Regions from separate parts of the Homo sapiens genome. Here all the other regions are reported to be linked to region 1. The links are microRNA targets in miRTarBase. Many come from high-throughput screens and were not tested one by one. Region 1 holds a microRNA gene; each other region holds the end of a gene's coding sequence.
Evidence for each region. Region 1 holds the annotated microRNA hsa-miR-6894-5p (AGGAGGAUGGAGAGCUGGGCCAGA, at 1,522-1,545, opposite strand). A microRNA usually pairs through its seed, bases 2 to 8, with sites in the 3' UTR of a target mRNA and lowers its output. Matches are read on the target gene's strand: a 7mer-m8 pairs with bases 2 to 8, a 7mer-A1 pairs with bases 2 to 7 and ends in A, and an 8mer does both.

Region 1 (3,216 bases):
TCACATAAACCCTTGTGCTCACCACCCTGGGGTCTGTTGCCCTCTCCATCTCACTCCTCCTCCACCTTCATGAATTTCCCTCCACTTTCCAAGCCCAACAAGCACCCCTGTTACCTCCTTCTCCTCTACCCCTCCTCCAGGAAACCTTACCTGGACTCTGTATCCTATACCCATACCCTTGCCACCTGACCCTCAAGGCCCATTTCTAACAGACAAGTCACTAGACCCTTGCCTCACCCCTCCCACCTGTTCTTTTCTCACACGTGTGTCCTGTCTTGCCTGAACACTTTAAGCTTTTGAAAGGAGCCAAGCATGGCCTGCTGCTCAGGTCCCCTGGTCCCCTTGATCCCTCATCAGCACTCCAAGCGTCCTCACCTTGACATCCCCAATCTGGTGCATGGCGCAAGGCAGGTTGTTCATCTGGTCCAGAAAGGCCCGGAGCTCAGTCAGGGTCATCTGTAGACCAGCCACCCTGTGGGGGCTATGAAGTATCACATGTGAGGTTTCAGGTCCAAACTCAGTGCCTTCCCTCCATGTCTATGCTAAGACTGAACACCTTTCCTCACTACACCTGTCCACCTTGATCTCGCATATTTCAAATTTGCCCCAATTGCCCAGGTTAGAGGGAAGGTTTTAAATTATAGAGCATGTTCATATTATGAGGGGAAAGAATTAGAAACTAATGGGTTGTAATAAGAGCTACACTTTGCAATCCATCCTCTACTGTGAACTCTAAAGCTGTGTTAGCAGGGATCAGGTCTATACATCTTTGTCCTGTTCTTACCCGTAAGCCTCCCACAACTCTTCCCTGCCCACAAAACCCCTCAGCCTCTCTCTCAGGCCACTTCCAGGTACTGATAAAAAATAAACACTTCTAGCTTTCTTATCACAGAGGCTCTCCTCTCCTTTTTAGGTGGCCTGGTCTCCTTGTCCCCCCCAACACCTTCCAGGCCATCTCACACTCTTGTGCCTGGCAGCTTCCTGCTGATGTCCATTCTGCCAAATGGTATTCACAGTCTACCCCTTGCAGCACTTTTCCTCGGTGCTGGATCCTCAGCACCTTATGTGTGCCCTAACTCCTCACGCTGTCATACCCAGCTTCCTGGCCGCTGACCAGTCCCAGAGCTCGGGACACGCAAGCCTCTGCCTCACTCAGGCAGTTCTTTAGTTGCTGCAGCAGCTCACTATTAGGAAACCTCCGCTCACGGGCTTCAGACTCTAGTGCCCTCAGTTCTTCAAGGCCTGGAAGAAAAATGAGGGCAGCAAAGAGTAGGCAGTATTGAATAGAGGCAGAGGAAGGGGGTCAGAGTACAGAAGAAAGGGAATAGAACTTGCCTGTGGAGTCCCTCCATCCCCCCCATCACTCACTGCGCTTCCGCCCATCCTCCACCTCCAGGGCCACTCGCACTTTGTTGGCCCAGGTGTCAAAGGACTCAGCCCGAACCTTCAGCTTATGCAGCATGGCAGGAAGCTCATCCAAGGTATACCGATACCTGGAGGAAGAGGGCAGGCAAGAGCATGTCTGGCCCAGCTCTCCATCCTCCTTCTTGCCCCACTTCCTCCAGAAAGGCCCATGCTCACCGCAGGTACTGCCGGCTACTGGAGCACTTGCAGAGATCATTGATGTGGGAAAGGCAGACAAGGCCGTCTGGGCAGTCGTAGCAGGCCAGGGCTGACAGGAAACACGTAGTCTTGCACTTGATACACTGGCGCTCATCATCTGGGAGCAGCTCGAAAGCCTCTCGCTCAGCCTCTGTGATACCCTAAGGGCATTTAACCTATGCGTTATATATAACCAGAACCAGGTAGCAAAATCCTCCATCTCAGCCACCACCGACCCCTACTTTAGATTCAAATCTATGCTGAGGGTCATGGGGTTTAAGAGGCCAAACCCCAGGGAGCATACCTGCCCTTTGTAAAGTCTAGACTCTCAAAGCTTGGGGAATCAGATAAACCAGGGCAAGATCAGTGTGCGCTGAGTCAGATAATTTTATAGAGGAAGAAAAATCAGGTAAGATCCAGATCAGCAGAAAGGGTCTTGTGGGTGAGAAGTGAGGAAAGTGGTGGACCAAGATACCAGAGAGGTGGCAATGAGTGCAAGTGGCCAAGGGACAGGCCTGGCTAGTTATGTGTACTGGGGAACAATATCGGCTTCCAGTTACTCAGAGCCCACTGTGTTCCAGGCACCACGCTGGCCACTTAGTAGGCAGGAGATACTTGTGCACATATATAACTTAGAGAAATTCAACCGTATGTGCTTGTGTTCAGGGTTTAAAGAGATATAATAATTTTCTCCCAACAATATGGTTTCCAAACCTAATCCAATGACTTCATCTGTTGCTCAGATAAAGAAAAAGCAATCCATTTCAAAAATGAAGGAAAAGCTGGCTATATTGGAGTAATCGAGAGACAACCCAGTGTGTATATCTAATGGGCAATTTTAGGGATTTTAATGGGAAATGTCAACTCTTAACAGTTTTTGTCTTACATACCAACTTTAACACCTAATCTCTGCATAAGTTATGAGCCCAAATCCCACTCTGCCACTTATATGCTGTGTGATCATGAGTAAATCATTTAACGTCTCTGGGTCTGTTTCATTATCTAGTAAGATGGAGATAAACAGTATCATCCTTGTTGGGTTGTTATGAGGATTAACAAAAATAAAGCAGCTATGGAATCAGACAAGTATCTCAGCACTTAGATTCAGTGTTCATCAAATATTTACTGTTATTAGCTCTAATTTTCAGATAAGAATATATATTCCACAGGCCTATCTCATTTTACTAAGGCAGAAACTAAGTCTCAGGGTCAGTAACTTGCCAAACTGAGTTAATTTTGACTCTAAAGCCAGAGAATATTCTAAGGATGAAGTCTCTAGGGTTTTTTTGGACTACAGACTCCTGAGAATTGGATGTAAACTATAAGTCCTCTTCCCAGAAACATACTTAAATACACATACAATCTCTTACAGGATTCCAAGACTATGGTGTCCAGAATGCTTCTCTGAGGTAAGGGCCAAGTGTGAAGAATTCTGAATGTCAAGATGAGAAGGTCTATTCTCCCCACCTTGCTTTGGCTCCTTCCCACAGCTTGGCACAGCCACACGGCCATCATTTAATAACAGTACTGAACAGAGTGAGAAAATGATGCCTGGAAAAGCCCAGGGACTCAACAACTTACACCACGACTGAGAGGCCCCAGACTTCCAACACT
Region 2 (3,000 bases), not on the chromosome of region 1:
ATTCCAATTACAGTTCTTGCTCTTTCTTTTTTTAAAAAAATAGAAATTGATCTTAAAGAAGCACAAAGATTTTTTGCTCAAAAATTCTCCTGTGGTGCCTCAGTAACAGGGGAGGATGAAATTATCATTCAGGGAGATTTTACAGATGACATAATTGATGTCATTCAGGAAAAATGGCCAGAGGTGAGTGCATGGAACACATACATCGCTAGAGATAAGTTTTTAAAGCAAATTGCTTCCATTTTTTCTTAATTGCAACCACAACTCATGAGATATAATTATTTGTGTTTTATAGGTAGATGATGACAGCATCGAAGATCTTGGAGAAGTAAAGAAGTGAATTTGAAAATTTGTCTGTATTTAATGGCCTGAACTGAGAGTTGATATGGCCAAAGGGAGAGAGGCCTTTTAAAATATATATATATATACACATATATATGTATATATACACATATATGTATGTATACACATATACACATGTATATATACATGTGTGTATGTATACATGTATATATATATACATACACATATATGTATACATATATACACATATATGTATACATATATACACATATGTATACATATATATATATTCTACAGTAAAACTGTAGACTGTCCTCGTCCTTGGCATTTTCACTGTTCTGTACAAGGCTGCTTGTTTTTTTATTGCCAAAGTCAAATAAACGGGAGACTGTCATGCTCATGCATGAATAGAATTTAGTCAAATAAAAAATTTTGGTCATTTGGTACTGACTTTCTCTCTCTCTCTCTCTCTCTTTTTTTTTTTTGACAGAGTCTCGCACTGTTGCCTGGGCTGGAATGCAGTGGTGCGATCTCGGCTCACTGCAACCTCCGCCTCCCGGGTTCAAGTGATTCTCCTGCCTCAGCCTCCCAAGTAGGTGGGATTACAGGCGCCCGCCACCACGCCCAGCTAATTTTTGTATTTTTAGTAGAGATGGGGTTTCACTATGTTGGCCAGGCTGGTCTCGAACTCCTGACCTCGTGATTGGCCCACCTCAGCCTCCCAAAGTGCTGGTATTACAGATGTGAGCCACCGCACCCAGCCTGAGTTTCTCTTTCTCTCTTTTTAACTTTATTTTTTGAAAAACCCGGTAGACTTTTTGTGGGGAGCATTTTTGTTGATAATTTTACTGATCTAAAGCTGAGTGATTTTTTAAAAGAATTTGAATTTGGCTTCCTCACCAGTAATATGTCTCCTTGCTTCTTTGATGTGATAGTTTTGAGATGGGTGAGAATCTAATAGATCTGTGGTTGAATTTGCTGTGTTGTTATGAAGTCCACCCTGTGGGCACAATAACATAACTGTTGGTAGGAGTTGTTTGAGCTATTCTGGAGATTATTTGGTAAAGTATACTAAAAGCCTTAAAACCATGTATGTGCGCTGTTTGAACCCGTAAGCCACTTCTTTGACATTAGAAGACATTAGAAGAAATAATCAGCCTTGCATAAAACTTATGGATGAAAGTATTCATCACAATATTATTTATAATAAAAAATTGCAAATGTTATAAATGAACAATTGGGAAATGGTTAAAGAAGTGATGGTGCATTGTGTGGTAGAATATTATGCATATGTTTAAAGAATCATATTTTCTAAGATTATTTGGAAGCATGTTTGGTAATGTCAAGTGGAGTACCCCAGATACATTTTAGACATTTATCGTCATCATCTGCTCTGAGTGGAAGGCCGTTCAGAGAGGCTAGAGGTTCTTATTCTGGCTATAAATTATGTGAGTAAAATTGTGCTAACCAGTTAAAAGTACTGTACACCCATGCTCAATATATAGTCCTGGAAATAGCAATTGAAACATGTCTTCTCACAAGAGAAAATGACAGTTTTAATGATGTATTTGATGAATTTAAACTTTAAGTCAGGTGCTGCAAATTGGAAAGAAGACTTGTGGTGTTTTAAGTTGCTGTGGACACTTTTAAGAAACTTAGAACCCATGGAACCCTTGTTTATCGCCATGCAAATTACAATCTTGAATGAGTGTTTTTTAAAAATAAAGTATTAGAAAAATGTGTAGTAAAGATGTAAAATTAAAAAATGGAATTCTCCATTAACTGTGGATTTTACTAAATAGAATTACTGGTGAAGCAGATTTATCCATCGAGACTATCTGGTATGCGTTATGTATGTAGTCTGTTGCTGCTGAAAGATGTCTGTGTGCCTGTATCAACATGTGACTTCATGTAAAGTTTCTTTGTGTTCACAGTTCTTAGCAAATGCAGTTACAATCCATAGATAGCCAGCAGTGGATGTTACTCCAGGAAAATGCAGGATTAAAATTGTCCTTGTGTATAACGTGTGAATCATTTTTTTAAACTGAAATTTAAAATGCAACATAGTTTAATCTCTGATTAAAATGTACTAATAGGGCCAAGCTGCTTTGATGCATGGCTATAATCCCAGCCGAGGTGGGAGGATCACTTGAGTCCAGGTTCAAGACTAGCCTGGGCAACATGGCAAGACCCTGTCCCTATAAAAAATACAAAAATTAGCCAGGCATGGTGGCGTGCGCCTGCAGTCCCAGCTACTTGGGAGGCTGAGTTGGGAGGATCACTTGAGCCTGGGAGGTTGAGGCTGCAGTGAACTGAGATCACGACACTGCACTCCAGCCTGGGCAACAGTAAAACCTGGTCTCCAAAAAAAAAAAAAAAAAGTACTAGTAGTTCAAAAATTGACTTTACACATTCTCACAGTCTACCATTTTTAGTAAAAAACATGAACCTTTAAGCAGCCTTATAAGAGATTTTCCATGATTAAGCTGGCAACTTTTAATGCAAATACTTTTTGCATATAGTTTGGTAAGTATTTCATTTTTTAAAAACAGATGCTGACAGTAAGTGATTTTAAACTTTTTATTACTACATAAAAGCCAGTCTGTGGTAGCTTTCTCACTCTTAGTTTAAAAGTTGATAAATTACTGTTTTAAAGATGAATTTTACCTTTTAGTTCCCTGTTCTCATTATTTACTA
Region 3 (3,000 bases), not on the chromosome of region 1:
TGTTATGTAAGAGCAATAAAGAGCTGATAACGGTGGCCTGCATTTTATGGAGATTTTACTATGGGTGTATTTTAAATGCATTCTCCAACTGAATATTCAAATTCAAGCCCCTGATAGGGGACCAGGGAAAGAGAAATACTAAGAAGTTTCCTGACCCAGGAAACCCCAGGGTATACAGCCCCTAAGAGGCCACACCCGACTCAAAACAGGCTTGCCCAGACACTTGAGGTCTTTCTGCGCTTCACAACGCACCACTCTCCCCTTTCCCAGACCTGCACTGGGGCAGGGGTGGGGAAGGGGTTACGAGGTCTTCAGACAACCTACAGGACAGGAGGCTGTAAAGTACAGAAAAAAATTTATTGGAAATCCCTTGAATACATTTTGAAGTGTAGCTCGGTATTTCCAAACAAAGTAGGTTGGAGAGGTTGGAGGAGGAGGAGGGACTCTGACACCTGGAGACAAACAGCTGGTCCCAGCCTGTCCCGGGGGTGCTGCAGGAGTCAGTCTAGGGCTCATTCCTTTCATGGCAGGTCTGAGGGGCAAGGGCTGGCCTTAACAGTTGCTTTACTTCTCCCAAGCTCAGCTCAAAGTCATGGCTGAGACTCTTCACAGATGGAGCCCTGGTGAAAGGCTGCTGCCACCTGTAGATGCCAAAGATTGCTGCCTCAGACAATGGCTAGGCCTTTCCATGCAAGGCCTTGGAAAGAGAGCAGTAGCTGAAATATGGGGGCATCAATAACTTACCAGGGGCCTTCCCCCTTCTCAAAGCTGGGGCCTTGGGGATAAACCTGAGCCTGGGTTCAGCAAGCCACGCATGTGCTCTGGGCCAAAGTCAGGAGGGCCAGTTGGCTGCTACTGCTTCTGCTAACACTTCTTGGTGGCAGCAGCAGCACGCAGAGCTCTGGTCCCCGCCAGAGCCTGCTCCAATCCTCAGAAGTCAGCCTTGTATGTGGGAACAGTGTCACATGCAGTATACTAACAAGCAGCTGAGAACCACCTGCTCCACTGAAGCACAGCTGCTGCCAGTGAATGCCCCAGGTGGGCCAGGAGGAATGGAGTAGACCTAGATCTCCTTGACCAGGACTACCAGCGAGGCTGGGAAAGGACAGATCATAGGTGGGTGAGGCTAGGCACTTGACTTATTCAAGTAACAATACCTGAAGGGTTAAGTCAATCATACGCCCAGCTTTGATTTCTCAACCAGAAGCCAATCCAGCTGGTAAACCCCAGGGCAGTGTAGAGAACCTGGGATTAGAGGGAGATGGTAGCTAGGCCCAAGCAGGAGGAAAAGCTCCACAGGACAGCCCCAGGGATCAGGAACAAGTACCCAGGCAGTTGGGGGACACACACAACATCCCCTAACCACTACATGTGGCCATCACATTTAGCACCCAGGACTTCCTGGGCTGCCAGAATGGAGTCAGTCACTCTGCAGAAACTGTGGGAGATGTAAGGCTCTCACCAGGAATACGCAACTATCCAAGGTAAAGCCTTTAGTCAGTTCCAGTGCAGCCACACTGGGAGGTGACTTTGCCCCCGGCCAGCCCTCTTCTTGGATCTCGCTGTCTGTATGGTGGGAAGATCCTCAAAGCAGCAGCCCGGATTCTCAATAACCTCCGGAGGAGGAGGTCTCCGTCCCAGGAAGAGCCCTCCGCCTTCTCCAAGTGAAAAACAACTCACCTCAAACATATTTCCTCTATAAAATATCTGGTTTCTCTGAAAGTAATAAATATTTACCATGTTCTATAACCAAGGAGCAGCAACGGGGGGACAAGAGGAAGAGAACTTTGCTGTGACTCCAAGTGACAAAATCCTAGAGATTCAGGGTGCCATTTTTATTTCCCATGGAGCTGAGGACCTGAGCACAGGCAGCCACCAGGGCTGCTCAGACCCTCCCGACCTTCAGGGGTGGGAGTGGTTTTGGAGTTCTGATCTTGGGTAGGCAGGCCTGTCATATTGCCAGAAATACAGGCATAGAGGCAAGAGAGAGAAGAAGAGGAGAAGAAGATAGCAGGAAGTAAAGGGGACAATGAAGAGAGCTAAGGGACTCCTTCCTTCTTCCTCCTGGCACTGTCTCCTTCCTCTTTCTGCGACTCCACACCAATCTCTTGGCCACCAGCTGGAATGTCAAACAGTGGATGGTGACAGCAGGCAGGGAAGGGGCCAGCTGCAAGGCAGGCCCAGGCAGGAGGCCGGCAGCAGGAGGAACAGGATGACACCCTTGGGAAGCAGTTGGTGATGGGCAGGGCACACAGATGGCCCTGCTGAGGGCTTTTTCGTACGAAGGTTCTTCCCATCTCCAAGGCCAGCACGTGAGTCTTCTCCAACTGGGCACTGGGCTTGACTGCCGCCACGGAGTCTCCAGGAGGTCCAAGAGTAGGGACTTCTGGGTCCCCATGGGAGAAGCCAGCCTCCCTTCCACCTGGCTCAGAGCAGGATGAGGGGTGGGAGCAGCTGATGCATGGGAGGCTGCTTATGCCCTGGGGCCACAAAAAGGGGGTGCTGCTGGGACTCAAGGATACTTTTACTGCAGGGTTTCCACAAAGGCATCAAACTCGCGGACATTCTTCTCATGCACAGCCAGCTTCTCTGGTAATGAGTCCTGTACCGGAAAGAGAGGGAAGAGCCGTTTATTCAGGCAGGGCCTTGAGGAGGCAGCCAGCCCAGTCCCGAAGAGGGGAGGCAGCAAGCAAGACGAAGCTCAGCCCTAGCTGGGCCGAGCAAGTGGGAGAACGCAGGGCAGCTGCGTAGGCACAGGGTAGGGAGGGGTATATGCATCAGGGCTTTGCAGGGGCTGGAGGATTAATGGAACGGCCTTGGGAGTCCAAGTGGGCCACACACTTAACAAAAGAGAAAAGGACCACAAGAGCAAGATGATTCAGAAATTAAACATGAAATATCCCTGGCACAGATCTGACTGACACTAGAATAAAATACCAAGTGTACAGCTCTACAAATTAAACAGTTTACAAAAGATTTCTTCACACCCTTTGCTGGGCA

Region 2: miRTarBase lists DENR as a target of hsa-miR-6894-5p. The part of its 3' UTR that is shown has no 7-base or 8-base seed match.
Region 3: miRTarBase lists ATG13 as a target of hsa-miR-6894-5p. Seed matches in the 3' UTR shown: 7mer-A1 at 427-433.

The regions. Positions count from the first base shown.
Region 1 is chrX:53,197,396-53,200,611 of GRCh38, forward strand. It overlaps MIR6894 (microRNA 6894), which reads right to left and starts at 1,550; the gene lies at 1,494-1,550. KDM5C (lysine demethylase 5C) reads right to left here. Exons shown (of 26, transcript NM_004187.5): 15 at 1,582-1,763; 16 at 1,369-1,493; 17 at 1,095-1,242; 18 at 376-481.
Region 2 is chr12:122,768,739-122,771,738 of GRCh38, forward strand. It overlaps DENR (density regulated re-initiation and release factor), which reads left to right. Exons shown (of 8, transcript NM_003677.5): 7 at 44-183; 8 at 296-2,326. The coding sequence ends at 340. Among named protein-coding and RNA genes, the nearest start is that of CCDC62, 4.3 kb to the right of the region's middle.
Region 3 is chr11:46,671,857-46,674,856 of GRCh38, reverse strand. It overlaps ATG13 (autophagy related 13), which reads right to left. Exons shown (of 19, transcript NM_001346311.2): 19 at 339-2,602. The coding sequence ends at 2,525. Among named protein-coding and RNA genes, the nearest start is that of ARHGAP1, 27 kb to the left of the region's middle.